Homo sapiens: one gene and its partners. The protein of the gene in region 2 interacts with the protein of the main gene of each other region in a biochemical or structural test. Each region holds a gene or a part of one and is shown on either strand. Other genes may lie near its edges. The genes, in order: FSHR, GRK6 and SNCG.

The links.
Region 1: of the proteins of GRK6 (region 2) and FSHR, one has a biochemical effect on the other in vitro, tested with the Homo sapiens proteins (one study listed by BioGRID).
Region 3: of the proteins of GRK6 (region 2) and SNCG, one has a biochemical effect on the other in vitro, tested with the Homo sapiens proteins (one study listed by BioGRID).

Annotation. Positions count from the first base shown.
Region 1 is NC_000002.12:48,975,620-48,985,533, forward strand, and holds part of FSHR (follicle-stimulating hormone receptor isoform 1 precursor), read right to left. Parts: intron 7,548-9,914; coding exon 7,479-7,547; intron 7,368-7,478; coding exon 7,293-7,367; intron 1-7,292. UniProt on the Homo sapiens protein: G protein-coupled receptor for follitropin, the follicle-stimulating hormone. Through cAMP production activates the downstream PI3K-AKT and ERK1/ERK2 signaling pathways.
Region 2 is NC_000005.10:177,435,713-177,445,342, reverse strand, and holds the end of GRK6 (G protein-coupled receptor kinase 6), read right to left. Parts: intron 9,271-9,630; coding exon 9,062-9,270; intron 8,951-9,061; coding exon 8,813-8,950; intron 7,455-8,812; exon of another isoform or gene 6,473-7,454; intron 5,430-6,472; exon of another isoform or gene 5,312-5,429; intron 4,644-5,311; coding exon 4,506-4,643; intron 4,425-4,505; coding exon 4,290-4,424; intron 4,099-4,289; coding exon of another isoform or gene 4,093-4,098; exon of another isoform or gene 3,990-4,092; intron 3,609-3,989; coding exon of another isoform or gene 3,607-3,608; coding exon 3,553-3,606; coding exon of another isoform or gene 3,516-3,552; 3' UTR 2,452-3,515; downstream 1-2,451.
Region 3 is NC_000010.11:86,952,804-86,963,043, reverse strand, and holds the start of SNCG (gamma-synuclein), read right to left. Parts: upstream 4,347-10,240; coding exon 4,226-4,346; intron 3,412-4,225; coding exon 3,370-3,411; intron 3,096-3,369; coding exon of another isoform or gene 3,044-3,095; coding exon 2,916-3,043; intron 441-2,915; coding exon 369-440; intron 80-368; coding exon 59-79; 3' UTR 1-58. Other genes in the region: MMRN2 (multimerin-2 precursor), read left to right, coding at 5,503-5,666. UniProt on the Homo sapiens protein: Plays a role in neurofilament network integrity. May be involved in modulating axonal architecture during development and in the adult. In vitro, increases the susceptibility of neurofilament-H to calcium-dependent proteases.

The DNA of each region.
Region 1 (9,914 bases), on a different chromosome or scaffold from region 2:
TGAGCCAATGTCCCTAAGAAATCTCCTCTTCTCTTATTTCCTCGAGCAGTGGTTCACAGTTCTCCTTGAAGAGGTCCTTCACATCCCTTGTAAGTTGTATTCCTAGGTATTTTTATTCTCTCTGTAGCAATTGTGAATGGGAGTTTGCTCATGATTTGGCCCTCTGTTTGTCTATTATTGGTGTATAGGAATGCTTGTGATTTTTGCACATTGATTTTGTATCCTGAGACTTTGCTGAAGTTGCTTATCAGCTTAAGGAGATTTGGGGCAGAGATGATGGGGTTTTCTAAATATACAATCATGTCATCCGCAAACGGACAATCTGACTTCCTCTCTTCCTATTTGAATACCTTTTATTTCTTTCTCTTGCCTGATTGTCCTGGCCAGAACTTCCAACACTGTGTTGAATAGGAGTGGTGAGAGAGGGCATCTTTGTCTTGTGCCAGTTTTCAAAGGAAATGCTTCCAGTTTTTGCCCATTCAGTATGATATTGGCTGCGAGTTTGTCATAAATAGCTCTTATTATTTTGAGATACGGTCCATCAATACCTAGATTATTGAGACTTTTTAGCATGAAGTGGTGTTGAATTTTGTCGAAGGCATTTTCTGCATCTATTGAGATAATCATATGGTTTTTGTCATTGGTTCTGTTTATGTGATGGATTATGTTTATTGATTTGTGTATTTTGAACCAGCCTTGCATCCCAGGGATGAAGCTGACTTGATCGTGGTGGATAAGCTTTTTGATGTGCTGCTGGATTCAGTTTGTCAGTATTTCATTGAGGATTTTCGCATCGATGTTCATCAGGGATATTGGCCTGAAATTTTTCTTTTTCTTGTCTCTGCCAGGTTTTGGTATCAGGATGATGCTGCCTCACAAAATGAGTTAGAGAGGAGTCCCTCTTTTTCTGTTGTTTGGAATAGTTTCAGAAGGAATGGTACCAGCTCCTTTTTGTACCTCTGGTAGAATTTGGCTGTGAATCTGTCTGGTCCTGGGCTTTTTTTGGTTGGTAGGCTATTAGTTACTGCCTCAATTTCTGAACTTGTTATTGGTCTATTCAGGGATTCATCTTCTTCCTGGATTAGTCTTGGAATGGTGTATGTGTCCAGGAATTTATCCATTTCTTTTACATTTTTTAGTTTATTTGCATAGAGGTGTTTATAGTATTCTCTGATGGTAGTTTGTATTTCTGTGGGATCAGTGGTGATATCTCCTTTATCATTTTTTATTGTGTTTATTTGATTCTTCTCTCTTTTATTCTTCATTAGTCTGGCTAGCAGTCTGTTTATTTTGTTATTCTCTTCCAAAAGCCAGCTCCTGGATTTACTGACGTTTTTGAGGGGTTTTTCGTGTCTCTGTCTCCTTCAGTTATACCTAATGTAGATGATGGGTTGATGGGTGCAGCAAACCACCATGGCACGTGTACACCTATGTAACAAACCTGCATGTTCTGCACATGTATCCCAGAACTTAAAATATAATAATAATAATAAAATCCCCTCTCCTCTCTCTCTCTCTCTCTCGTTTCTGTCTTTGAATAACCTTGACTAATACAATGACTATTTGCTAAAGATAGGCTTAGAGAGAGGCCCAGAACATAAATCATGGCACAGTGAGGGAGGGTTATTTAGAATAGTTATTCTGGGCAATCATACTTGGAGGAGTAAAGGGAACCATGGGACGGGATTAGATCTCTGAGCCTTGATAGTCATGCAGAAGAGTTTAGGATTTATATGAGCAGAAGAATGGTTTATTCAAAGCTGGATTTTTGTAAGATTAGTCTTGAGAACCTTGATACCAGCATATGGTGGGTGTTCAATAAATAGTTGGTAAACTAATGGAAGGGGAAAGGACTGAGGGTAGGAAGGGGACAACGTGGCTTTTGCAGAAATTCAGGCCTAGGATGACAGAGGCTGTCTCCTCCCACACTATCACTTCACGTGTTAAAAGTCATTGTGTGACATGATGACAAGGGTTTATTAGGCATCTGCTGTATATTACTATAGCCATTTGTGAAAATTTCTGCAGTGCTCATTGTACTGGGGAGTAACATTCATCCCTTGGCCAGATGCATTACAGTAGGTACTGTTTTCTGTTTTCACATATATTTCTTACCCCTTGCCAGACACACAGTAGGTGTTTAATCAACATCCACTAAATGTATGTCATGTAAGACTTGATGCCCTCAATGAGTGCTTGAGAATGTTTACTTTATTCCTGCCCTTGTGCCTGGAACTGGTGGGCTGGACAAGCGGGGAGGGGTAGTTGTGGACTGGTGTTTTTAAACTTTATCTTTCAGGCTGGTCTCTTCTAATGATTTTGGTCTTTCTTTTAAAAATATCACTTTTAACGTTGCAACACATGCTATATTCAGATAGTGAGTAGTTTTGAGAATTTAAATCTTGAAAAGACCAGTGGATACCCCATGGGATTATGACTTGCACAGAAGAGACTTAGTAATTTAAAATTGTTTCCACATTGTTAGTACTCTTCATTTTGAGATACAGAGTAGCAAGAGAGACTGCATGGGTAGGAGGGTAGTAAGAGGCTGAGGCAGGAGAGGCAGGAGTTAAAAAGCACTCTGTGCCCCATTTAATAAAGTGTGTTATAGCCAGTGCCACAAATTTGATTTGAACAATTTCTATTTTTCCCAGCAAAGATGTTATTACAGGTCAATCATTTCCATAAGTGAGAGCACATTTCTGGTGTATACTACACTGACAGATGGCTAGAAGACCTCTCTTTCATGATCCCAGGCTGGATAAAAAGGCAATTTACTATCTATAGGACTGTGGGTACACTGGTAATGGAAGAGAACCATTCTTATACAAATAACTCAGTGTTTGAATCTGAACTATCAAATGAATCTGAGCTATAGCCAAATCAATTTGATAAACCATCAGAATATGATTGTACTGGCTCCAGCCTGCAAAGGCAATGCATTAAATTTTCCCCACAGGAAACTGTTTCCCAAAGAAACAGCAATTGTTCGATTGCTTAAAAAAAAACAACCTTGAGTGAGTTCAGAATATCAGGTAAAAACTCAGATGGCTGCTGATGTTCAAGGTCAAGACTCACAAGGGGGAAATGAGGATGCTGAGCTGCTCCTCTGAAACTCGATGAAACTTGTTTGTATGCCCCTGGCTTTCTCTGCATCTATCTTTCTTTGTGTGGAACAGTGCACCCTTGCACCCTCAGGTGTTCAGAGGCTCCCTATTCTTCCCTCAACTACAAATTTTGCCTTCAGGAAAGCAGCTATCATCAGTTTGAGTGTGTGCCCCTTAATTTTCTTAGAATTCCTTGCATATATCCACTGGAGAAAAAGGACTGAGCCAGTGAGGGAGGAAGATTCACCACATTTGGCTTGTGGAGGAGATATTTTGGAGACTGAGCAAGGCTTCCCAATTCCCAATATTGGTCCTAGGGCAGTAATTCTCAGAGAGCACTCTGGACAAGCAGCATCAGTTTCACTAGGAAGATGTTAGAGATACAAGTTATCAGGCCTCAACCCTGACCTACTGAATCAAAAATTCTAAAGGTGGGAGCTGGGTGTTATGACTCACGCCTGTAATTCCAGTGCTTTGGGAGTCCAAGGCAGGAGAATAACTTGAGGCCAGGAGTTTGAGATCAGCCTTGGCAACATAGTGAGACCCTGTCTCTGCAACAAAAAAAATGGCCAGGTGTGGTGGTGCACGCTTGTAGTCCCAGCTACTCAGAAGGCTGAGGCAGGAGGATCACTAGAGCTCGGGAGTTTAACGCTGCTGTCAGCTATGATGGCACCACTGCACTCCAGCATGGGTGATTAAAAAAAACCACAAAAACACCCCCCCAAAACCTACTCAACTCTGAACATGCTGCTCTAGGACAACTGAGAACCACTCACAGCTGAGGTGGCTCATAGCCGAGTCTACTCTGGGAATTGCCCTCAGCTGACTTTCTCCTCCCCAGGAGTTTGGTTCCTCCCCAGGGACAGCCTGCACCCAATAATTCTTGATATGGAGGACTTGCCCCTTACCTTAATTCAGTACAACTTTGAAGGACCATCTTAACTCCAGATCTCCCCATGGGATCAGCTGAGCCTTTTGTTGCAAATGCATTACCCTGATTCTGCTTCCATCAAGGGTTCCCTGTACATTCTGAGAGCACCCTCCGGTAAACCTCCCGCATGCAGATATATCACAGTCTTTGTGTGTGTGTGTGTGTGTGTGTGTGGGAGCGGGGACTGCAATCTGACCCAAGGCACAGTCAAGATCAGCATGATTTGCACCTACTGTGGTCTGAATAGCCTACGCATACTCCTACTCTTACCTCTTAACTCATCACCTGAGGTGGGCTGGTCTACTGCACACCTACACAAGCACCTCTCAGGCCAGGGTTTAGATGGTTTAGTGTATCTGGATGCAGAAGTGAGATGTGGAATAAGCTATTAGTCTTCTTGCATCTCAGGTCAGCAGGGGGAGAGGCTTGAAGAACATCTATGGACTGATCTGAAAGCCCCAGAAAGGGGGGCTTGATGTTAAGGTGAACAATTCTTTTGGCCCCAGGGGGAAAAGAGGAAATTCGCAATTATAGGCTGGGCTTCCAGCCAGGATCCTGCACTGAGATGGAAATATGTGGGAATGTATTATCACTCTCTACCTTTTTAAGTCATGGGGAGTGCTTCCTAATTCCATGGATTTTCTGTAAATTGTATTCCCTTAATTCTAGACAGATGTGTTCCTGTGGTAAGAAGGACAAAACAATGGGCCTATAACTTGAGGACCTTGTAGAATTGCTTCCGATGCTTTCACAGAGGCTCTCTTCCTGCCTGCGTTCACAGTGGGGCTAGATGGGGGATTCAAGTTTTGTGTTCTCTGTTAAACATTCTTATGAGATACATTGTGCAGTATCTTCGCCTGGAATCTGCTTGTGCAACCTCAGGAGATGTTCTTCTGTGCCACGTTTATCTAACATTGACTGGTGTTCTTAGGCTGGGAGGCTGGTGTTAATAGTTATTTTCCTCTCTATTTTAGCTCACAACCAGTTTCAGGGGGCCTCACCGAATAACTTTTAGATGTTCAATTAAACGTATTTATGGCAACATGGTATGGTGGGAATACATGGAATGTGAGGCAGAAGACCTAGTTTCTGGTCCAGACTCTGCCCCTTCTAGTTGCAGTGTGATCTTTAACAGATCACTCTCCTCTGGGTTCTGATTTCTTCAGTTGGATAATGAAGGAGTTGGGGGATCTCATCCAACTTCATTATTCTCGGGAGCAGATAGGTTAAGATGCTATAGATTCAATATTGTACCTGGTACAGGTCACATATATAAACACACCCATCACTGACATATTCTGCCATGAACAGATAGAGATGCCTTCTTAGGAACATTCAAAACTTTCAGGGCTTTTTGCTAAGTGAAACTGACATGCTGCTATTGTGGGGATCAAAGACATCAAAAGTACTTGTCAAAATTCATTTGTCTCCCGAGTACTCTAAGAACAGGGTACATGAACTAAGCAGTACAAGTTTTGAGTACTTTGTATTCTTGAGTACATGGACTATATGCCCAACACTCTCCATTTGTTAGCCCTGGGTCCTTCCTTGTACTTCATAGATAGATCATGACTTGATATATTAAGTTGTATATTTAATGTATTGCCTGACTCCTCTCTATTCCCACCCCCAATGAGAATATAAGCTTTCTATGAGGAGGAACTTTCCTTTGTTTCCTGCATGGCACAAGACTGATGCTTAAAAATTTATCTGATGAGTGAAAAAATATTTATGTGTGTGTGTGTGTTTTATGCTTCAAATAATATTAGGAAATAGGTATTGTTTTGGCCATTTTTTTTAGGTGAGGAAACCAAGGCTTAGAGAGGTAAAAGAATTGGTCTAAACCAAGGCAGTCTGCTCTGTATCTCCGCTTTAATCACACGGATACTCCATTTGTATAGGTTGCCTATCTCAAGCCAGGCATTCTCGAATAATCTTTGAACATGGTCAGGATGATAAATCTACCTTGAAGTGTATATTTCTTCTTCAAAGCAGCAGAATCTCATATATAGATCACAACACACCCTTTATCATTAATAATAAATATTTAAAATTCTGACTCTCCATACCAAGTCTAATTCTAGAGGTACACAGGTTCCAGCCTGAAGGAGAATATTAGCTATTTGGTGTAGACAAAAGTGATGCAGATAGATGGTTGGTCGGTAGGTGGGTAGATAACCACACATGGTAGCCTATGCTAACTGCCAAATAAGAGGTTCAGGCAGGTGGCTTCTAAACGCCTGACTTGACTTAAGGCAGGCTACATAAGGATCATTCAGTAAAACTGTAGATTTATTAACATGTTTATCTATTGCTCTGCTCACCATTCCTTCTTGTACCTCATTCTCTCCTTTTGGGTTCCTTTCTTCATCTTGAAGTACTTTTTTCAGTCAGTAAGTGTAGTAGGTCTTGCTTAGAGCCCAGGAACACATTTTTAAAAAGCCTTTTTGTGATTGTGATGCAGATTGTCCCCCCACCAAAGAAGCCTTAAAGGCCATGAGAGCCACGGGAAGAAGTCACTGATGGCGAGGTTGTCAGAGAGACTTGAGGAGGTAGAGGACTTTGGAATGATGCTTGATGGAAGGGGCAGTGTAGGTAAGAAGAGAAGATGGGAAAGTCACTTTTGGAGGGAAAGATGGAAGTAAGGAAATGACAAGAGGGAGGGGTGCTGATGCAGGGCTGTGAGGCACGGAATGCATCCCAAGGGATTTGGAAAGAGGATCCAAAAATAATGTGTATATAGGTCTCATTGGGTTGAAGGAACCTCCTGAGTGTTGAGGATGATGGAGAATTGTGCTTTCCTTTCCAGGGAAGAGACACATGATCGAGTGGTTGTGGGTCTGTACCATGAGTTAGATCAGTTTAAATCCCTGCTGTAACTCTTGTATAACCTTGAGTGGGTGAATTAACCTCTCCAGGGAAGCCAGTTTTTCCTTCTGTAAAACGGGAATAATAGCTCCTACCACAGGGGGTGATTATAAGGATTAAACAAGAAAATGCATCTTAACTTCTGAGAACGCCATCTGACACTCTGTACGTGCTCATTACATGTTATTATTAGTGTTGCTTTTTAATGGAGAGTTAGACCGTGGATAAGCCTTAAATTGTCTCTATAAATTTTTGCAGATGACACGAATAAAAATTGAACTTGATGGCCAGCCCTGTGTTGGAAGCTTCTCCCCTAGCTGCAGAGAGTTGACTTCTAACTTACACAAACTGAGCTCTTACACACAGAAATGGGGAAAGCTACTCACAGAATGACTGGTCCAGAGGCTCCGTGGAAAACATCATTAGGCAATTCTTCTAAATTATTATTATCGCTTAGATTCCTGGGGATGGGGTTGAGGAAAGAAGAAGGAAAACACAAAGCCACATAAATATTGCTGTTGTAAGAGCCATTTCCCTTTAAATGGCCTTGAAGAATAGTCAGGGCTACTTACAGCTCATCTAGTTGGGTTCCATTGAATGCACAGTTGTGTATTTCTTGAATCCCATTCTTATTCAGCCATCTGAAATAAAAGGCCTATTAAAAAACCAATAATGTCAGATGCAAACAATACACGGGTTTCATAATTGGAAGCACTGAGCAAGGGCAGACAGCACAGGTTAGTGGCATAAAGAAAATGCCACTTTTAAAGCTTGGGGACACGGGTGGGAGGAAGACTGATTTATTGCTGTATAATCTTTTGTAACTTTTGAAGTTTGTATTACTTGCATGTATTACCTATTCAAAGGATTAAATGAAATTTAAGTTTGAAAGGCATACTTAGGCAGAGCAGCCTGGATTCTATAACTGTAAGGTCTTTACACACATCATTTGTGTGTAGAGAAGCAATGCGGGGAGCGACAGATCTTTCTCATCCTGAAGGACAGGAATCGTACAATTATTGAACAAGTGTTTATAAGACAGAGAAAGAACATTTTGTGTCACCTTTCTCTAAGGCCTTAAGCCTTTCACCCATGATCACCCACAGCAGCAGGCCTGGCTGTCATCAAAAGTGATCTAATTAAGTTGTCAGACAACCTGAACATCTCCTGTGACCCATAGGGACCTGGTTATTGGAGGTTTGTGGAGGTGGCTCTGGGTTAAGCCAGAAAGGAAGAGAAATCAATTACAGAGAATGTGGGCTGTGGCAGGGTGAGGTGATCTGAATGAGCAGGGGAGGAGGTTCTGGGGGAGGTGGAGATGGGTGTAGAACAGCCATCCTGATTGCGCTAAGAAGGTCAGTGAGCAGGGTTCCCTGGACAGGGGAGCCCAAGGACACCTTGGGCTACAGCTCTGCCTTGCTCTGCTCCTGAGTGGATCTGAAAACAAAAACAGATACCAAGGTCAGGAGAGCTTAGCCCGAAGAACCTCTGACTACCTGCTCTTGTTTTGCTGTCAGGTTCTTTTCCCTGTCCAGCTTAGTGGGCTTGCAAATAACACTGTACAGAAAGCTGACCCAGAGAAGCTCCTGTGCATCCAGGACTCTCTTTCCTGGGCTGCCATGGGTAGCCAGAAAACACTTAAAATCACAGGAGAACAACTGTATGTCTTTTTCCTCCTCTTGAAAACCAATTACCTAAAAAAATCCAGAAAGGGGCGAGGCAAATCTTTTAAAACATTCACAATCAATTGGTGGGTTCTGATGGCAAAGAAGTGGCTATGCACCCCCAATGCCATTTGAGAAAGCCTCTCCCAGGCACATCTGGACTCCTGACTGTTGCAGGATAGTGGGAGTTGCTGAGGTAGCTGTGGCATGTGGATCCCTGGGGATTTGAATCAAATACAGGATTCAGCAAACTTTTTCTGTAAAGGGCCTGATAGTAAAGTTTAGGTTTTATGGGCCAAAAGGCAAAAATAAAAAATATTATATAAGTACTTTATGTACTTATAAAACAATTACCACAATTTTTTATTGACCAAATTCAAAGTGTAATAATTGGGTATTTTTTTTTTTTGTAATATAGGCCTAATATTGAGAAGAGAATTTTTAGTGGGGGATAACATTTTGCTTAACTTAGATCTAATGTTAGTGTTTCCTGTCTTAGCTCATGAGCTGGATTTGGCCTCTGGGTTATATGTAGTTGGCTGACCCTTAATCCATACAGGTTCCACCTATTTGCCTATTGACTAGATAATTAATATTTCTTGCATATTACTGTCCTGTAAATCGATGTTGCTATAATCAAATAAAACATAAACTAATTTTAAATAATTATTGTATTCAAATATCCCTTTGTCTTTATGGATTATCTCAATCAACAGATACCATTATATGGGGAGGAGGATGGTATTTCTTGATATCAGCAGTGGATCATCACACAAAAAAAACAAATTATGTTCAGAACTGCTGCCCTTGGATTTACGTTATCTGTGGGAATCTCAAGCTAGTAACAAAGGGAAACCCACATTTATTACACGCACCCCTGGTCTCTTAAGAGAGGAAGTACCTATTTGAAAACCAGATGATGACGATGATGACGATGATGACGATGACTACAACAACCTGGGCAGAACATCAACTAAGGAGTTACTGCATCACAGGCTTACCTTAACCCTTTTGTGTCCTTGGGGATGAGGCCAGTGTGCTCACTCAGCAGAGGCTCAGGAAGCTACAGAAGTGAACTTTGCTCTCATCCTAAAGAGTGGAGGTGCTGGGGACTTGGCCCTTTAAAACTCATTGAGGGGCAGGCAAGGGAGACGGGCAGACTGAGGAACAGAGGAAACACGCACGAAGCAGGTCTCTCCTGAGGCCCGAGTGTGCTGGGCACTGTAACGCATATCACTCATTTTATTTCTTCTGAATTAGGACATTATTCTCCTGGCTGGCCATAGCTAGGTGCTTTCCCCATTCAGGCACTCTGCTTACCAGGGCACAGTGCGGGTGCAGAAG
Region 2 (9,630 bases):
TTTCAATGGGGGAATCACTGCCCCACGGGTGCCATCCTGGTGAAACTGTGAACCCAAGTGCCCTGCTCCCTGACAGTGCACAGCAGGCAGGTATCCAGCCTGGCCACTCAGACTCCTTGAGTTTGCAACTGGGCTCAAAGAGGCAAAACCAAATGGCTCTATCATCTTGGTTCTGGTGGGTGTCTCCTGATGAGAATGGAGCCCACAACTAAGACCCCGAAGCTCCTCCATATCCTTGGAACACCTTCTAAGTTAGCGGGAGGACAGTTCTGTCACTTGCAACATTCCCACCTGGCTCTCTCACTCTAGGTATGTGTGTGGAGTATGCGTGTGCAGGGGGTGCAAGCCCAGCCCCGTCTAAACCACATGGACAGAGACTGGGGGTGCTTTTGTACATGCTGGAGCAAACACCCCAACACAACCAGTAAAAACCCTTCAGGGAATCCCCTACCTTCCAGATGAGGCCCCATCTGGGCCTTAACCCTGTGATCCTTAATCTAGCTTTCAAAGCTGGCTGTGTCTCACTGACTTCAGCTCCAGCCATTCCTTGCTTCCACCCCTGGCCTCCCATGCTCAGCCATCCTAAACCACTAAAGCCCTAGACCATCCATCTGGCTCCTCTACTTGGGTACATCTGACCCTGTGTCCTGGAGGGCACCAATTCTGACACCTTCAGGGTCAAGGGGCCTCCCTGTTTGGTGCTGCCCCACCCCCAACCCTGTCAGCTCTAGAATCCTCTCTTCCACAGTGCTGATCACACTGGGTCCCGCTGTTCCCACGTCTGCCTCCCTACCAGACTGAGCTCCAAGCTGCCAGGGGCCTCGTCTCCATCTGGGTCCCAGTTCCCACCATAGAGCTGGGCATGGAGGACAGCTCAGGGAAGCTTCTTGGGAAATGAATTCTGGGAGTTCCCTCTGCCAAGGACCCACTGTGTTAAGAGCTTTAAGGTGAGTTTAACCCTAGCCAAGAAGTTCCCTGGATGCCTCCCTAGCCCAAGGGGGAGCTGGCCAGGGTGTCCTGATCCAGGTGCAGGCAGAGTGCCTCAGGGTCCTGCACATCCACCTGGCACGCGCTCTCTTGCATACCTGCCCAGGGCTGGGCTTTGGTATGACATGCTAACACCTACCTAAAAATCCCCCACTCCCACCTCATAACAGCCTGGGGCAGAGGGGCAAACCCACCCCAGGCTCCTTTCTCATGATACATGGGTAGGATCCAGCTTTCCCATCATTACCTGGTTTCCTCCCCACCCTGCAATGGCCACTTAACCAGTTGGAAGACCTTGAGCAGGTCCCCACTCCCCTTACTTCCCTTAGGTTGGTGGGAAGCAGCAGGCACTCCACATGTCATGAGTGGGGCCACAAAAGGCCCCTTCTGCCAGGCTGCTGGCTTGGCACCTTCTGGCTGTGCTTAAGCCAGGTGGTTAGTTTGGTACTCAGCACCACTCCCCAGCAGGTGGGAGTCCTGCGGTGGCTTGGGAACTCAAGGGGCTGGCTGGCTGCTTTGGTGGATTCTCACAGCTGCCCAGAAAGGTGATGGGTCTTACACCTACCTTTCCATATCAGGGAAGCGCCTGTGCAGGGCCAACTTGAAAAGTGGCCAGGCTGGGGCTTGAACCTGGAACTGTCAGCTACAAAGCTCACATGGCTCCTGCAGCACTGGGTGCCCAGTCCAGAGGCCAGGAACAAGCTTGATGGGGCTTACGGGGCATTCTCAGGGAGCTGGGGACACTGGGAGTCTATAGAGCAGTGATGGGGTTGCCAGATCTGGGACAGACTGGTAGGCAACAAGCTCTCAGCCCCAGAGCCCAGGCAGGAAGCTCCCCTTGAGTGCCTCCCAGTCCCCCTTCCTCCCAGGTGAATGTCCACTTCGAGGCCGGCTCAACCACCGTCTTCAGAGAACTCTCCCACACTGGCCACAGCCTATCTGCCAGCGTCACCCACTGTCTAGGTCTTTGCCCATAATGTGTCAAGGGCAAAACAGAGGGGTGGATATGATGCACGTGCCTCAGCCCGGGGCCCGTACATGGCTGGCGTCCAGGTAACGCAGGCCTGGGGCAGACATTCCTTACACAGCTCCCACCCTACTCTTACGTCCACATTTAGGCAGCCAGGCCACCTTAGCCTTGGAGGGGAGGACACCAACGGGGCCCGCCTTACCAGCAGTCAGAAACAGACCCACATCCCAGTGGGTACCCAAGGCTTCTTTCCTTAGGCCCCATCCCATTTAGGAAGTTGGGAAACCCACTGGGTGAGCCCAAAGGCTACCAAAGCCTGGCTGTCTGGAGAGGCTAGTTCAGAGTCAGCCCTGGGGGCTCCTGGGCCTCGGAAGGGCACACCCTGCTTCCCTCCAGGCCCACCTCCAATCCCTTCCCGCTTCCAGCTGGGCCAGGGGAGCAGGAAGACCCCTGGAGCACCGGAAGCAAGAAAGAGGCAGGCAGGGGCGGCTAGCCAGGTTTGTGCTCGGACTATTCACACAGAGACATGTGGCAGCTTACGTTGGACAAAACGAGTAATAAAAATTGGCTTTAAATATGGAAAAAACAGGGCCCTGTAATCCCATGCTACCCTAACACTGGGACCAGGATGGCCATCACAGTCTGGGAAGGGCCAGGGCTGGGACCTGGGGCACAGGCACAGCCTCGCCCTATCCCCTTCACCCACACAGGTACACACGCGCGCGCACGCACCCCACAGGCGCACACAGGAAGGGGCGGATTATTGCTGGGCACATGTGTCTATTGTTATGAGGGGAGTCCGGAATGTTTGAGGGTTGACCAGGGATGCCCCACCCCCTCCTAGGGGCTGGGCTTGGGCGTTTCTGAAAGAGGTGTCTGCAGGACAGAGCCCAGTATCAGGGACCAGGCTGTGGGAGCTGGAAGGCAGAGGCAGACCTATCTGGGCCGGCCGGGGCAGTGGGCTGATGGGTATCACAGGCAGCCCAATCTCTGGCCACTTTGGCACAGGCCTAGGGCATACAGAGGCCCCAGACCCAGCGCTGACAAGCACTGAGAAGGGACAGCTTTGGGCCCCAGAGGGTAGCAGCCTGAGCCCAGGGCAGCAGGGGGAGGCACGAGTCTTACTCAGAGGCCGGGGTGGCCAGCACAGTGCTGAAGGCTCAGGGGTGTGACCACCCTCAGCCATCCAAGCTGGGCCAGAGGAGCCTTGAGTTTGGCAGTGGCTCCTCTGCCAGCTCCCGCTCTCCCAGCCAGGGCTGGCTGCCCCCAGGAGCCAAGGCGGGGGCGCCAGGTCTGCGGCGGGAATTAAGAATGCTCTGGTCGCTATATACATTCGTACAAATACATAAATACAGAAAGCCCCGAGCTCCACGGAGAAGAGCTGAAGGGACGCACCTTTGTCCCAGGGATGGCCCAGGCCCTGCCAAACTCAGCCAGGCCAGGGGCTGAGGGACGGAGGACACTGGGGACAGCTCCGTCTGTGTTCCCCAGGCCACGACTTGAGTGGACAATGGGGAAGATCACTGTGCAAAACTGTAAACGGCGCTCGGAGTAGCTGCTACCGCCAACTGCTGGTGGGGGCCTCGGGCTGGGGGCTAGAGGCGGGTGGGGAGCTCTTCCTCGCTGTCGCTGCAGTTTCCACAGCAATCCTGGAGGGACGGGGAAGACACGGAGGGAGGGAGAGAGGCAGAGCAGGTGCCATTAACCACGAGGGACGTCACATGGGGCCGACCCTGCCAGGGCAGGCCAGGAGCTGCCTGAGGGGTGCACTCTGGGGAGGGGCCTCTCCACAAGGAGCCTGGAGCAGCAGCTCAGGCCACACGTGGGTGGGCGTCATTGCAGAGGCTGCCGGCAACAGACTGAAGTAAGGGGGCTGGGTAGATCCCACGGTCTGCCAGGGCAAGGCCTCTGCCCAGCCCTCTCCCCTGGGGCTGGCAGAGACAGGGCACGGGGAGACAAGCGAAGCAAAGCTGGCAGCTCGAAGGGGCCAGGGTGCAGGGGATCAAAGCAGTGGGCAGGGGGAGTGGGGCGGGCACCAGACTTCTTTCTCCCACATCTTGCCTTTGCCATGGAAGGGCTGCCCGTGGCTCCCCGAGGCCAGGCAGCAAGGCCAACCCACGGGGAGCCCACACTGCTCACCTCTGGAAAGAGAAAAGAGGCCATGAGCCCAGCCAGGGGTGGGGGACAGGCGGGAATGAGGCCAGAGACCCTGGGCACCACAACAGGACTGGAGGACGCCCACTCCCAGCGCATGCGGGCACCGGCTCTGCCTCCCACCCACCGTCCCCTGGAGCCAGGTTAGGGGCCCAGGTAGGCCGCTGCTGGGGCTTACTTGGCGACTGAAGAGTCTCTGCAGCAGTCCCTTTTTAGGAGGTGCAGGTGGCTGGCCCTTCCAGTCCAGGTCTGGGGGAACTGAGCCATCCAGCCCAAAGACATTCAGCTCTTGGAAGCACTCGGTCTCCACCATCTGCTGAGGAGCAGGCGGCTGTGACAGCTGTCCCCAGGGCAGCCTCCTGGAGCCCACCCCACCAGCAGGGCAGGCCCCCACCTCGTTCTGCCAGGGGATGGGCACACTGCCTGTGGCAAACTTCTGGTAGAAGTCCTGGTCGGTAGGCTCCAGCTCCACGCCCTTGACCGTAGAGAACTGTTCAATGTCCAGAACATCCTTGCAGTAAATGGCCTGGGGCTGGTGGGACAGAGGCAACGGTCAGATAGGAAACACACACACGCACACGCGAAGGCAGCTCAGCCCTGATTCTGCCTCGGGTCTTGGCCTAGTGCTGCCTGACACCAGCAGCTCTCTGATTTGGAGAAACCAGGTGCCCCACGCACTTCCTAAGTGGGGCAGGCCCTTCTCTCCGAAGCCTGGTTTTCCCCTCTGTGAACTGCGTACGTTATTCCTCACTGCTCAATGACTGTGAGGCTGTGTAAAGGCCAATGCCAGGCACCTCCTTCGCCTGCCCACAGCTTCCTGGGTATGCAGTTGGGGCGGGGAGTACAGGCTGAATCTCAGCCGGCCCCTCCGCTGGGCACCACCACGCAGAGCCTGGAGCTGGTGACTCCCTGGCTCCCCGCCCTGCGATGACCTGGGACTTGCCGTCTTCTCTCCCAGCCAATCAGAGGACTGGCACGGTCTCCCACTGCTCCACCTCCCCAGACCCACACTGGGAGCCCACCTCAGCTCCAGGCGGCCACCTTCTTTTTTTATCTTAACATTGTTTTCTAAATCCTTCAATTAAGATGTCAATTAAAATCATTGTCATGTAAAATGGTACAGCTGCTTTGGAAAACAGTCTGGCAGTTCCCCAAAAGCTTAAACATCATTACCATATGACCTAGTAATTCTACTCCTAGGTATAGACCAAGAGAAATGGCGGCATCTGCACACACAAAAACTTGTACAGGAATGTTCACAGCAGCAATAACAGCCAAAAAGTGGGAACAATCTTAATGTCTACCAACTGACGAACAGGTAAGGAAAATGTGGTCTATCCATGCAATGGAATATTATTCAGCCTTAAAAAGGTATGAAGCACTGATCTATGCTACAACATGGATGAACCTTGAAGATACTATGCTAAGTGAAAGAAGCCAGGCACAGAGGATCACATACTATGTGATGCCATAGCTATGACATGTCCAGAGTAGGCAAACAGAGAGAGACACAGAGTAGACTGGTGATTGCTAGGAGCAGCGGGAGGGAAGCATGGGGAATGGCTGCTAAGGGTATGGGTTTTTTTTTTTTTTGCAGAGTGGGGCAGGTAATGAACACACTCAAGAATTTATCGTGGTGCTGACTGCATAATTAAAAAGCCAATGAATTGCACTTTTTTTTTTTTTTTTTGAGATGGGAGTTTTGCTCTTGTTGCCCAGCCTGGAGTGCAATGGTGTGATCTCAGCTCACTGCAACCTCCGCCTCCTAGGTTCAAGCGATTCTCCTGCCTCAGCCTCCCAAGTAGGTGAGATTACCGGCATGCGCCACCACGTCCAGCTAATTTTTGTATTTTTAGTAGAGACGGGGGTTTCACCTTGTTGGCCAGGCTGGTCTTGAACTCCTGACCTCAGGTGATCCACTCACCTTGGCCTCCCAAAGTGCTGGGATTACAGGCATGAGCCACCACGCCCAGCCGAATTGTACACTTTAAATGGGTGAATTGTATGGTATATAAATCATATAAATTAAACTCAATAGAGCTGTTAAAAAAATATCATCAAGCTTGCTTTTTCATCTACTGCTTCCACAAAGTTAAACTCCAGGGCACTGATTTTATCTCCGACTTTGAATGGAAGATCCAGAGGCAGTGTAGTTATTTCAAGGTTAAATGAGATGATGTACACAGGAAACAGAACAGACTGAGTGGCAGTGCCAGCCTCAGGGGCGAGCTGATGAAAGTCAGGCTCTCTTAGTTCAAGTAAGTGCCTCTGACAGGGCCCACCTTTGCTTTGGAAAACAGTCTGGCAGTTCCCCAAAAGGTTAAACATAGTTACCATATGACCTGGTAATTCTACTTCTAGGTATAGACCAAGAGGTATGGAGGCCAAGGCGAGCAGATTACTTGAGGTCAGGAGTTCGAGACCAGCCTGGCCAGCGGTTCCAGTGAGGCCCATGTGAGGCAGTCACTCAGGGCAGTAGCCCCCTCACTGGCCTCCCCACTTCCACTCACACCCACTATGGCCCACTCCCCACACCTCACATTCCTGCCCAGGGTCCCCCAGCGGTCCCATCTTGCTGAGAACCTGCCGGCACTCCTCTTTGCCTGCACGGGCTCACTCAGCCACACAGGTGTCCTCGCGGCTGCTCCACCTCACAGGGCTGGCCCCTGCCTCAGGACTGCAATACCCGGCTGTTTCTTCTGCCTGGAATGCTCACACCCCAAACCTTGGCATGGCTCTCCGCTTCACATATTTTACATTTCTGCACCAGCATCACCTCCCCAGAGACCACGGTGTCTAAAAGCGCTCCCCCCACCATCATTCTCTGCCATCTTCGTAGCTTGCTTTAGTTTTCTTTTTTTTTTGAGATGAAGTTTCACTCTTGTTGCCCAGGCTGGAGTGCAATGCGCGATCTCAACTCACCGCAACCTCCTCCTCTTGGGTTCAAGCGATTCTCCTGCCTCAGTCTGCCGAGTAGCTGGGATTACAGGCATGCGCCACCATGCCCAGCTAATTTTGTATTTTTAGTAGAGATGGGGTTTCTCCATGTTGGTCAGGCTGGTCTTCGAACTCCCAACCTCAGGTGATCCGCCTGCCTCAGCCTCCCAAAGTGCTGGGATTACAGCGTGAGCCACCGCACCCAGCCGCTTGCTTTAGTTTTCTTTGTCACACTTAACATTACCTGGAATTCCTTCTGGCTTACGGGTTTGTTTGGGTGTGTCTCCCACTAGAATGTAAGGGCAGGACTGGCTCCAGTGGGCCTCATTATCTCCAGGGTCTGGCATAAATGGGCACTCAGCTATTTGCTGAATCAATAAACGTGTGTGTCATTGACAGCTATCAACCTGGCCTGCCCTGCCCATCCTTCGGGCCTCTCCAGTGTTCCTGGTGAACCGTTAATTACAGGACCAGTCCTCATAGACATGGGAAGGGGAAAGCACATGACCTCATCTTAGCCAATCAGAACCTTCCCTATGACTGTCACACAGAGAAGCCTAATTCAGGGGGAGGGAAAGAGTCAACAGGTTGAAGGCCAGGCAAGAGCTGGAGAATCGTGGCACACAGCAGGAAACCCTGGAGCTGGCCCTACTTTGGGACTTTCTGGCCAAATGAACCAATACACTCCACGGTGAGCTTAAGTGAGTTTAGGTTGGTTTTCTGCCACCCGGACTCTGACAACTAGAGGATACTCTTGCCTGCTGGGTGCCTGGCCCACTGAGATGCTCAGTTAACAGGTGAGACTCCATAAGGAAAAGTGACCACCCACAGAAGGATGGCCAGCCCAACAGCCCCTCCCACTGCTGGCAATTGCATTGTAGTTTTCCTCTGGGGAACTGAGCTCCCCCATTGGTGCAGGTTCGGGTGGGTGTATGATCTGGGTGTGGCCAGTGAGGGGCCTCTGAGCAATGAGAGGCAATGGGCATCAGCTTTGGGACTTCTTTTCCCCCATGAGGATTTCTTTTGAAATTATTGGGCAAGGGCAGGCGCGATGGCTCACTCCTGTAATCCCAGCACTTTGGGAGGCCGAGGCAAGAGGATCACCTGAGGTCAGGATTTCAAGACCAGCCTGGCCAACATGGTGAAACCTCATCTCTACTAAAAATACAAAAATTAGCCGGGCATGGTGGTGGGCGCCTGTAATCCCAGCTACTCAGGAGGCTGAGGCAGGAGAATCGCTTGAACCTGGGAGGCAGAGGTTGCAGGGAGCCAAGATCTCACCACTGCACTCCAGCCTCGGGGACAGAGCAAGACCCTGTCTCCAAAAAGAAAAGAAAAGGAAGAAAGGAAAGAAAGGAAAAAAGAAGGGAAAAAAGAACGAAGGAAGGAAGGAGAGGAGAGGAGAAGAGAAAAGAGAAGAGAAGCTCTCTGTCTACTGTGGTGGCTGAGCTGCTGGGGCCCACTGCTGCCGCACCATGGGGAGAGCTACCCCAATATGAAGACTACACACTCAACGGTACAGTGAGGGGAAGGAGAGAGAGTTCCTAGGACATTGTCAGAGGCTCCAAGCCCCATCCAGGCATGCCACAAGCCAGACCCATCCTGGGGCTTTTCCTTTTTGTGAATTATCTTTATTTCTGTGGCTAAGCCACTAGATTGTTTTTTCTGCCACTTGCACTGGAAGCATCCTGGCTGATACTACAAGAGCCCCTGAGCCCCAGCCCTGGCTGGGCCCCGCCCTCAGCAGGAGTGGGCTGCACTCACGTCAGGCTTGAACGGCGGCTCCAGCATGCCAGCTCCCAGCCGCTTGAAGTTCAGCTTCTTAAAGAGGGGGTGCTCCTTCACCTCGCGGGCACTGCCCCCACGACACCCCAGGCGTTCGGCAGGGTCCTTGCAGAGGAGCTGTGGCAGGGGTGAGTCGGCCAGGCAGGCCAGGCAGGTGAGTGGGTGGGAGGGAGGGAAAGGTGCATCCACCCCAGCCCTGGCTGGCCAGGCTTCTGTGAGCTGCCGTACCTGTGAGCAAAGTGAGCGGGCCTGCGGGGAAAAGCGCTCGGAATACTCCTCGGGGACCTCCTTCACCAGCCGCTCCACCTCCTCCCGCTTGATCTTCTTCTTCCTCTGCTGGAAGGGCGACTGGCCTGCGATCATCTCGTACAGGAGGCAGCCGAGCGCCCACCAGTCAGGGCTGAACGTGTACCGTTCATTCTTCACCACCTCCGGAGCTGGGCGGGCGGCATGGGAGTTAGGGCTGGGCAGGAGGCGGGCAGTGGACCCTCAGGCCCCAGGAACGCCAGTGCACGTTAGGTCTGGGATACACTCACACCCGCTGGCCAGGGGGGACCTTGGCCAGTAGGAGAGCACAGGCCCCATCAAGCGGGGTGAATACGGCCCTGCAGGAGGCCGCGCCCAGGGTCCCCGGGTCTTCAGATTTTACACAAGAAGTCAGAAATCTGTATTTTGTATGTGAAACCATCTGGCTTACTAAAAACAGTTTGACTTAAACACAAATGTAGGCCAAATTGGGCCCATGTGGCTACCATTTTGCAACTTCTGGATTTAATATCAGCGAGAAGAAGGAAACT
Region 3 (10,240 bases), on a different chromosome or scaffold from region 2:
GGATGGTGTCCAAGGCAGAGGAGCGCTCTTCAGGTCATCCACGCTGGCCTGTAGCCCTCTAGTCTCCCCCACTCTGGGCCTGGGAGAGAGAATGACCTGCACACCCAGCTCCAGGCCCCAGCCTTAATGGGCCACCCTGAGTGGGCTGAGAAAAGTTGTCTTCTGTGCCCCATGCCTGAGGGGTCATCCGTGGGGGGACCTCCCACTCAGGTTCAGGGTTAGCCCTGTACACAGTCCCTGTAGGGGCTGTGGAAGGTCAGGAGGCCCCTCTGGGCCCTGGGAGCCCAGGAGGGAAGCAGTGCGTCTGTGGGGGATGGGGTCCCTACCAAGGAACCCCCCATGGTGCACCCCAGGAGCCCAGCTCCTACCTCCTCTGCCACTTCCTCTTTCTCTTTGGATGCCTCACCCTCCTGTTGGGGGGCAGATGGCCTCAAGTCCTCCTGTAGGGGACAAAAGGGGGCATGAGACCATGTGGAGAATGCAGAGACCCCTAGCTGCCCTGCAACCAGGGCCTTGTCTACCCTGGCCTCAAGGAGGAGCAGAGGCCCCTCGTGGCCTTGTTGTACTTGGAGGGGCTGGAGGTATTGGGGGCGTGCAATTCAGACAATACCCGGGGCTCTGATGATGCCGAGGCCTTCCAGGGGCACCAAGTACCCTGGAGCCCAGCTTCACCCCTCAAGCTGGTCCCCAGTCTCTGGGAAGCCCCTAGTTGGGCTTCACTGATGAGGAACCTGGGTGGGGTAGGGTGGAGTGGGGGTTAGAGTGGGCAGAGGCCCCTGAAGCCCCAGGTCTGACCCCACCCTCAGTAGCCCTACAAGGAAGACTGATTGGGGTTCACATAGGGACTCTGAGGCCAGGGAGGCTTGGCATGCAGCTCAGGGCCTTCGAGCTCAAAGTGGTGGGGTGTGTTGGCATCAGATCAGGCTTGCTTCAGGCCCACTTCAGTCCACAGGAGCATGGCTCCCTCTCTTTGCCTCCTGGACAGGCTCTGGGCTCAGGCTGGTCAGGGCCAGCAGAGGTTACACAGTCCTCTCTCACTTCCCATCTTCTATCTCCTGCACTCCATGCCGGCCAGACACTTGCGTGAGATATCATGACAGCTGGGTGTGTAGGACCACACTGGTGATTGCCCTGCACTCTGGCCTCAGCACCTGCCTCTGGCGGGGGACGGGGGGGAGGCGGGGATACTGTCACCTCTGTGTTGCCCCAGGGCCATCCTGCCCCTTGGCGGAGTGGGGCATAAAAGGGCAGTGCTGTGCTGGCGGGAGTCGGCCAGGCTATCCAGGGGCAGGGCAGGTGGCCACCTGCTGAGTCCTGCTGCCCTAAGGCTGATGATGAGGCCAGGGGTATGAGTGGTCAGATAGTCCCTGCTGAGGCCTTTCACAGTTCACTGGGAGATGAGTCGTGACTGGTTTTGGGGTGTCACCAGGAAATGAGTCTCCCTCGAGGTGGCTCCAAGGGCTCACTAGCCCTGCTCCGGGATTCACAAGGAATGCCCGGGCACCCTCACCCCAGGGCCTCTTTTGCTGGGGGTGAGGAGGGAGGAGCCCCCTGGGGCTCTATGTGTTCTGCCTGGGACACATGATGATGATGATGATGATGGTCACCTTCCTCTGCTGGGTGCTCACATAGACCAGGAGAATTGCTTCATGGAGGTCATGGCCCTGCCTCATCACACAGCCCAGGGAGGCCGACACTCTCACCCCCATCTTGCAGATGAGAACACGGAGGCCCAGAGAGGTTCCTTTGCTTCTCAAGGTCATACGACGAGAAAGGGGAACTAGGAGAGGGAGCGGCTGCCAGCTCCAAGGACATGGAGACCCTGTGCTGGCCCTGGAAGCAGACACCTGGGCATCGCCCCAGAGCCAAGAGGAGTAGGGCAGCCCCCACCCTTCCACCCACCCACTCCTAACGCAGGGATTCTCAGTGCTCAGAGCCTCAGACTCCACCACCTAGGAGGCCTGGAGCAGGTAGGAGAGCTGGACACTGCTCCCCCGCCCCACCCCCAGGTAGGAATCCTAGCCCAGGCCACCACTTACACTGCCACAGGGTCTCTCAGAGTACAGGCTGCTCAGGGGAATTCCAAGCTCACATGAACTAGCCATGGGACCTTGGGCACATTAATCTCTCTGGGCCTTAGTTTCCACACCGTCTCATGGATTTTGTGTCTATTAAATGAACTAATAAGCGTACAATGCGTAAAGCAGAGCTTGCTGTGTCACAGGTGCTGGGACAGCTCACCCAGCCAACACCCGTCCCTGGGGTGCGCCCCACTGCTCCTGTGCTGTCTGCTATTGGGCCGCACACGCATGTGTACATTCACACGCATGTACACCCACACATTCTCACAAATGCACCCACATGCTCACTCAACACACGTGCACACACACACAAAGGCAGCTGCAGAGGGTAGGGTCAGAAGCAGCACTGCTTTCTTACCACTAGGGGACGCTACTTCCCTGAGGCTCCCAGCAGGAGGCAGCTGCCCCGCCCAGCCCAGGGAGGGAGGCTAGGCCCTGGGGGCGGGGCTGGTGCTACTCAGCCCCCGGCCTGGTGACCACTGCCCGGGAGGCTGCCTGTCACCGTGTGGGATCCTGTTTTCACTTATAAAATGGGGTGTCTCCTAAGTGCTGAGAGCCGTCCGGAAGATGTGGTTTTGAGCCTCACTTTCCTTGTCTATGAGATGGGCTCCCAAGTCCCCCGAAGGGGTGGTTGTGGTGATTCCAGACCCGAATGCAGGTCGAACAGCAAGCATGGACCCCACCCCATGCCGGCGCTCAGTGGGTACTGAAACTGAAGCCAGCCGCAGCCCCCCGTGTTGTTTCCTGGGGTGTGGAGTGGAGTGATGCCGCCTCCGCCCAGCAGCCTTTCTGGGCCCAGGAGAGGACTGGGCAGGTCTGAGGGCCGGGGCTCACCTTGCGCACCACCCCGGAGGTGACCGCGATGTTCTCCGCCTCCTCCACGGTCTTGGTGGCCACAGTGTTGACGCTGCTCACCACAGCCTCGCTCACGGCGTTGGCCTGCTCCTTGGTCTTCTCGGCCACTATGGGAGGACACTGGCTGGCCTCCACCCCAGCCCCAGCCCCAAGGCAGGCCTGCTGGAGTCAGGCTCGCAGCCCCTTCCCAGGAGCTCAGAGCCCTGGCCCTGCTGGGACCCTCCCCTGCTCCCTCTGACTCCAGGGCACCTCTGATGCTGGTGGGGGTAAGGAGACGCCCACCCTAGTTTAGCCTCATGGTCTGCAGGGGTCTGTAGGGCTTGGGACCCCAGTTGGGGGTAAGGCAGGACTCTAGGTTTGAGCCCCAGCACTAGGATGCAGGAGCCCCAGGGGTCCTATCCCCCATGTGTCCCCTGGCCCTGGGGCTTCTCACCTGAGGTCACGCTCTGTACAACATTCTCCTTGGTCTTGGCTCCTGGGGAGGAAATGGAGCTGTCAGCCCAGACCTCCCTCGAGGTGTTGGGGGCGGTCAGGACAAACACAACAGAACAGCTGGACAAACTGTGGGGTCGGTGGGGGGGTAAGGATGGTGTCTGGGGGCCGGCGGCCCCTTCAGAGGGCCTCTTCCTGCTGTGTCTGGAAGAAGTGGATGGATGGGAAGGGGACAGGACAGAATGTGGGGGACAAGAGAGAGCAGGCCTGAGGTAGGGACACTGGCTAGACCCAGGGTCCAGCCCCTGCCCGGGTGTGGCCGGGCCTCAGAAGCAGCAACAGGACAGGATGGGCCAGAGCTGAGTCATTGGCTTGACCTCCCCTTCCTCCTCTGGAGAGTGCCAGGAGAGGATGCGGGGGAGGGAACACTGAGCCTAGGTTTCATCCCCCAGCCTGCCCCTTCTCTCTGGGGAGGGAGGGGATCCGTGACCTGGCTGTAGCCGCTCCCGTGTGGAGAGGGTGGGGGCCACCTGAGCACAGGCTGCTCATGGCTTCAGGGGCTCCAGGCTCAGGGGAGGCTGGTATGCTTGGGAATGTGTGTGTGCGTGCACAGACAGGTAGCCAGCCCTGTCTGCGGTCTCTGACACCCAGAGGCCCCGAGGAGGCCAAAGACAAACACACATAGGTGTGCACAGGGCATTGTGGGTGCTCCAGGGTCTGGAGACCCCACCTTGATAGCCAGGGCCTCGCCCCCTCCCAAAATGCCTCCCTGGGGCTGGGGAGTAAGGTCTGGCGAAGGTAACTGGGCACTCACCCTTTGGCCACCACACTGTCCCACCCTGCCATGCCCCACTTACCCACATACATGACCCCCTCCTTGGTCTTCTCAGCTGCTTCCGTCACCCCCTGCTTGGTCTTTTCCACCGCACCCACCACGCCCTCCTTGGCGATGGAGAAGCCCTTCTTGAAGACATCCATGGTGGGTGTGCAGGGTTGTGCTGCTGCAGGCAGGACGGAGCTGGATCTCCCTGCGAGCTGCGGGCTTGAGCTGGCTCGAGTGCTGCCGCAGCGGCTGTCCCCGATGCCTCCTATTGACGCCGATGAAATATTGATGCGGAGGCCAGCTGGAGCCCAGCCAGCCCTGCGTGCAGTGGGGGCGGGGAGGGAGGGAGGGAGGGAAGGAGGTTCAGCCTCACCTTCCTCCAGGATAGGAAGGCAGAGACCAGGCTCCCTGGGCTCCTGCTGGCTCAGCCCAGCTCTCCTGCCCCGTGCCCTCCATGGGCTGGAGGGGGCTGGCCACCTCCCAACCTGTCCCTCATTCATTTACTGCCCTGCCCACCCATGGGGGCAGCCCTGGCTGGGTGCTCTTGGCCCCAGGGGTGCTGTGTCTATGCTGCACCTGGACAGACAGGCACAGAGAGGGGAGGCGCCTTGGCCATTGTCCCCAGCTTCCTAGGTAGGGGTCAGGGCCACATAGGCCTGTTAGGTGAGAGCAGCCAACCTCCCGCGGCCTGGGCTGTGCAGCTACCCACCAGCATCCTGGATGCCGCTGGACCCTGGGCTGCCATGAAACCGGTTGGAGGATCTGAGGTGGGTGGGGGTGGGGAAATGAAGGACTTCCTCATGCCTTGGCCTCTGGCTGCATGCTGTGTGACCCCAGAATAGTCCCTTCCCTTCTTTGAGCCGCCCAGTGCTGAAGGTGCTGAGGAGGCATGAATTGCCCCCCATTTCCTGGCCAGCAGTGTGGATGGGCAGCAGGTCCCCTGAGATGGACCTGACCACTTCCTGTGGCCCCACCTCGAAGTCCACGCTCTTTTCATGGCTCCCAGGGAGCAGGTTCCCATAAGGATGCATTTGGTGGGGCCACCCCATGTCTACCACATTCCCAGAGTCCCTGAGCCAAGTCCTCAGGGACAGGAACTGGCTTGTGTGGTTGGCGGCCCCTGTGGGGCCAGCCAGGGTAGTTGGGGGGCAGGACAAGACCCACCGGGTAGGCCGGCCCAGGCCACTTCCTCTCTTTGTTGTCCTCGTATTTTCTTTTCCTCCTGAGATTTAACTTGAAGACAACGTCACTAGCAGTTTCTGGAGCTACTTGCCAAGGCTGAGTGTGAGCTGAGCCTGCCCCACCACCAAGATGATCCTGAGCTTGCTGTTCAGCCTTGGGGGCCCCCTGGGCTGGGGGCTGCTGGGGGCATGGGCCCAGGCTTCCAGTACTAGCCTCTCTGATCTGCAGAGCTCCAGGACACCTGGGGTCTGGAAGGCAGAGGCTGAGGACACCGGCAAGGACCCCGTAGGACGGTAAGAGGGCCTGGACCTTGGCAGAGGTCATGGAGTAGGATCTGAGTCCCAGCTCAGCTAGAGCAGAGCCTCTCTAGACCTCACTGGGGTCCCATCTGTGAAATGGGCTAATAGTATCTATCTCTGGGCCATCTGTGAGGCTGAAAAAGTAGTCTGGACTGGGTGTTTCAGGATCCACCTAAGAATTGCAGGGAGTTCCCTGTCGGAGCCATGGCAGGGAATGGGGCTTGGGGGGCTGGCAGGGAGGCACAGCTCCTACCATCAATCACCCAGCATGGGGCACTGGGGGACTGTGGCTGAAGCCATTGCCAGCTGGCCTGGCTATGCCTCCTGTTCTTCCAAAGAAATCAATTCTGAAAGCTGAGACCCAGCAAGGCTGCCCTGAGATTTTGATCTGAGTTCCCTGGGGACCTGACTCTGACTGCCCAGCAGTGAGCAGAGACGGCCCCCTGCTCTCCAGAGCACAGTCCAGGGCGCTCTGCCTCAGCGACCCAGCAAGTGGGCAGGATGGTCTTGCAACTGGACCCAGAACATAGCTTTCCAACATTCTATGTGTACAGAGCCAGGGCCCATCCTGCTGATGAGGTGTTGGGCCTGTAAGTCCCCCCTCATCTCCAACTGCCCCTCAGTCAGAGCAGCAGGTGCTGTTTACGGGGCCCCCAGTCTCAGGGCCAGGCACCTTGCCACGTGTATCTCAGTTCATCCCTCCAACAGCCCCACTTACAGAGGAGGAGCCTGAGGCTCAGAGAGGCTGAGGGGCTTGCCCAAGGCCACACAGCTAAGGAGCAGGATCTGAGTTTGACTTCAGAGCTCATAGTGAACTCTCTGCAGCACTTGGAGCCAGCCCCAGCCCCCAGATGCTCCTACCTCCACCCTCCTGCCCCCACACACCAGACCTGTTTGGCTAAGGGCATCTACATGGATTTAGGGAGTGAGGGGGGGGCCAACTTACACTTCTGTGCGGTGTATGAGAGCCACCATCGCAGAGCGGACCTGCCTGGGATAGGTCTCATTTGGCTTCTGAGTTGCAGGTTTGTTGGGTGCTTTCCTGAAAACAGATTTGACCAGGGAGGGGCAAGAGGCCCCTTAGTGAGGGTCTGGTGGCAGTGGCGTGGGGAACAGTGGCTGAGCAGTTGGCCATGGAGAAACCTCATTCCCGCCTGCCCCCAACTCTGCTCAGGGCTGGGAGGTGCAGGTGATTCTCGGTGGTGGGGCGGCAAGGGGAGCAGGGGGCGGGGGAGGGGCGGGCTGGATCCAGCCACTCCGCTCTGATTTCAGGACCAAGGAAGCTCCACGCCTTAGTCTCAGGCCACCTTCCGCCTTTTGATGAAAGGGAGGATGAGAGGACCCGGTGGACGGGAGGGAGGAGGGAGCTGCTCCTCTTCCTCCCCACCCCCTTGGTTGTGGGAGAGACATTGCTCCCTTAGCCCCAAGGAGTGAGGGTTTGGGAACTGCTGATGGGCAGCCCTGCAGGGGCCCCGCAGTCCTTCTCTGGGGTTCTGAGTGGGAGGGTGCATGTACCTGGCCCAGGAATGCCCAGGTGTCCCAAGCCTGGAAGCCCCCTGCCTGCAGGGCTCTCCTTCCCACATCCAGAAGCTGCAGTCTCCACAGGGCAAGTCCATGCTCTCTCACCAAACCCGGATGGGCTGGTGAGAAAGGAAGGAAACGCGCGGCTTCCTGGGCTGATTACTTCCCTTGCTCCTGTGACCAGGGAGGTGGAAGCGTGCTCCAGACCCTGTCCCTGCAGCATGGGAAGGGGAGGCAGACTGGGTTCTGCTAGCAGGGGTGGTGACACCAACACCATCACAAGGAGGCTCGGCTGCCAGGGCCAGGCATTCTGCCCTGCCTTTGCCACTTACATCTGTTTCCAGAGCCCCAGGGCTAGGCTGGGCCCAGGATGCAGGCCCCAATAAGACCCTTTGCAAGGAGAAGCTTGAATAGAACCACTACGTCCTCAGACTTCCCTGAGGTGGAGAAGCGAAGGGGTTAACTGCTTCTTAGGTTGCCAGGGACCCCGAGGGGCCCAGCCCAGGGAGCCAGCAGCCTGAGCATTAGGACTCCGGGAGGAAGAGGCTGTTTCTGTGCCCTGGCTTGGGGATGTCTAGAATGTGGGTGCCTCAGACCCAGGATTTGCTGTCCCAGTGGAACTCAGTCTGCGGTAGGGACCGTGCTGAGCCCCAGGCAAGGTGTCCCATCTATCACATTGCTATGATAGCTTGGAGGGGTGGGGACGCCTCCCAGGGCCACAGAGCTCCTAAGTGACAGTGAGAGCCCAGGCCCACCCAGGCTGTCCTGTCCCCCCAAGAGGGTGGCCGTGTAGGGGATGCTGCTGCCAGCAGGCTGGTTGGCCCCAGTCACCAGCCTCAGGCTTCTCCTGACCCTTACACAAAGAGCACTGAGATTTTCCCAGCTGGGAGCTTGTGGCCCAGAGGAGTCCAGCATATGACTGGAGGTCACACAGGAGCAGGGCAGAGCACAGGCCGCCTTCTCTGGGCCACGATGCACCTTTTGCACTTGTTCCTCCCCCATCCTCACCCCCACCCCCGACCCCTGCCGGGCACAGAGCCCTTGGTATGAACAGGGAAGAACCCCCACTGGCCAGAGCTGAAGCTTCCAGAACCACGCTCAGGGGTTCTTAGCTCTGGGCTGATCCCTGAGAGCCTCAGGCTTCTCTGCCAAGGCCCTTTTCTGACTCAAGGACAAAATCCTGTGAGTTTCTCCCCTGGAATGGTCAAGTTAATGGCTGGCTTCAGGGCCTCAGAAAACAAGGCTGCTGAGAACACGCCTTCCTTCCCAAGGAAGACTTGAGGGCCCCTGGGAGGGCGTTTCCTGGCTGGGGAAGGGAAGGCACTCCACACAATCTGCATAATGGATGCGCCCTCCCCCTCCCACAGGCTCCCTCTCCCTTCCCCCCACACCAGCTCTGATCTGTGTGCCGCAGAGGCACAGCTTCTTCGCATTTCGATGATGGGGGAAGGGCCTTGCCCAAGGTCACTGTGGGTTCAGGGAGGAGGAGGAGAGGAGAACGCAGGCCGCCCAGCTTCCATTTAAAGCTCCAAAGGAGTCCACGTACCCTCCTATCTGGGTGGAGCAGCAGGTTGGGGCCACAGCAGACCAAGGGCAGCTCCAAACCAGGCCAGAGGAGCCCCACATCCACTCTGGGTTGGCCACTGGGAGATGAGGGCACCCAGCAGGACTCCCCAAGGGAGGGCACAAAGATGAAGCCAGCCTGAGACGGAGGGGCAGAGGGAAAAATGGGCACTTCAGCAAGTTGGGCCGGGGGCATGGGCATCAAGGGCCAGCCAGAAGCTGCCAAGAGCTGGAGGAAGCCAAAGCAAAGGTCAGGAATGTTCCCAGGGTTCTGGGCCAGCAGCCTGTACTGTGCCAAGGGAGGGCCTGCCCAGGGTGGGGAGCATGGGCAGAGAGAATAGCAGTGCTGAAGCCCAGGGTCTGGGCAGGTCAGCGGAGAAAGTTCCTGGGCAGGAAGGGTGGGCGGCATAGTTTCCACTTCCAGGAGCTTGAGGTGGAAAGTCCCAGTCACTCCTGGCAGGCTGGACCAGGCCAGGCGTGCCTGGGGCACACGCCTTCCAGGCCCTCTGCAGTAGGTCAGAGGTTTGCAAGGAATGGAAGTTTGTTTAGAGAGAGTTTCTCAGCCCTGGCATACTGACATTTTGGACTAGATAATTCCTTGTGGTGGGGTGTGGAGATGTCCTATGCATTGTAGGGTATTTGGCAGCATCTTTGGGCCCCACCCATGAGATACCTAGTCATGAGTAGCACCCACCACCCAGTCGTGACAATGCACCTGGGGAAAGTACCCTCTCCTCCCATTGAGAACCACTGGTCTAAGAGAGATTTTTCCCTAGGGCTGAGCTGTTGCGGGAAGTCAGGGACCCTGAACGGAGGGACAGGCTGGAGCCGCGGCAGAGGAACATAAATTGTGAAGATTTCATTTTAATATGGGCATATATCAGTTCCCAAAATTAATACTCTTATAATTTCTTACACCTGTCTTTACTGCAATCTCTGAACATAAATTGTGAAGATTTCATTTTAATATGGACATTTATCACTTCCCTAATAATACTCATAATTTCTTATGCCTGTCTTGCTTTAATCTCTTAATCCTGTTATCTTCATAAGCTGAGGATGTACATCACCTCAGGACCCTGTGATTTTGCGTTAACTGTACAAATTGATTGTAAAACGTGTGTTTTAATAATATGATATCAGTGCACCTTGAAAATGAACAGAATAACAGCGATTTTAGGGAACAAGGGAAGACAACCATAAGGTCTAACTGCCTGCGGGGTCGGGCAAAAGGAGCCATATTTTTCTTCTTGCAGAGAGCCTATAAACGGATATGCAAGTAGGAGAGATATCGCTAAATTCTTTTCCTAGCAAGGAATATAATATTAAGACCCTAGGAAAAGAATTACATTCCTGCGGGGAGGTCTATAAACGGCCGCTCTGGGAGTGTCTGTCCTATGCGGTTGTGATAAGGACTGAGATATGCCCTGGTCTCCTGCAGTACCCTCAGGCTTACCAGGATTGAGAAACCCCAGCCCTGGTAA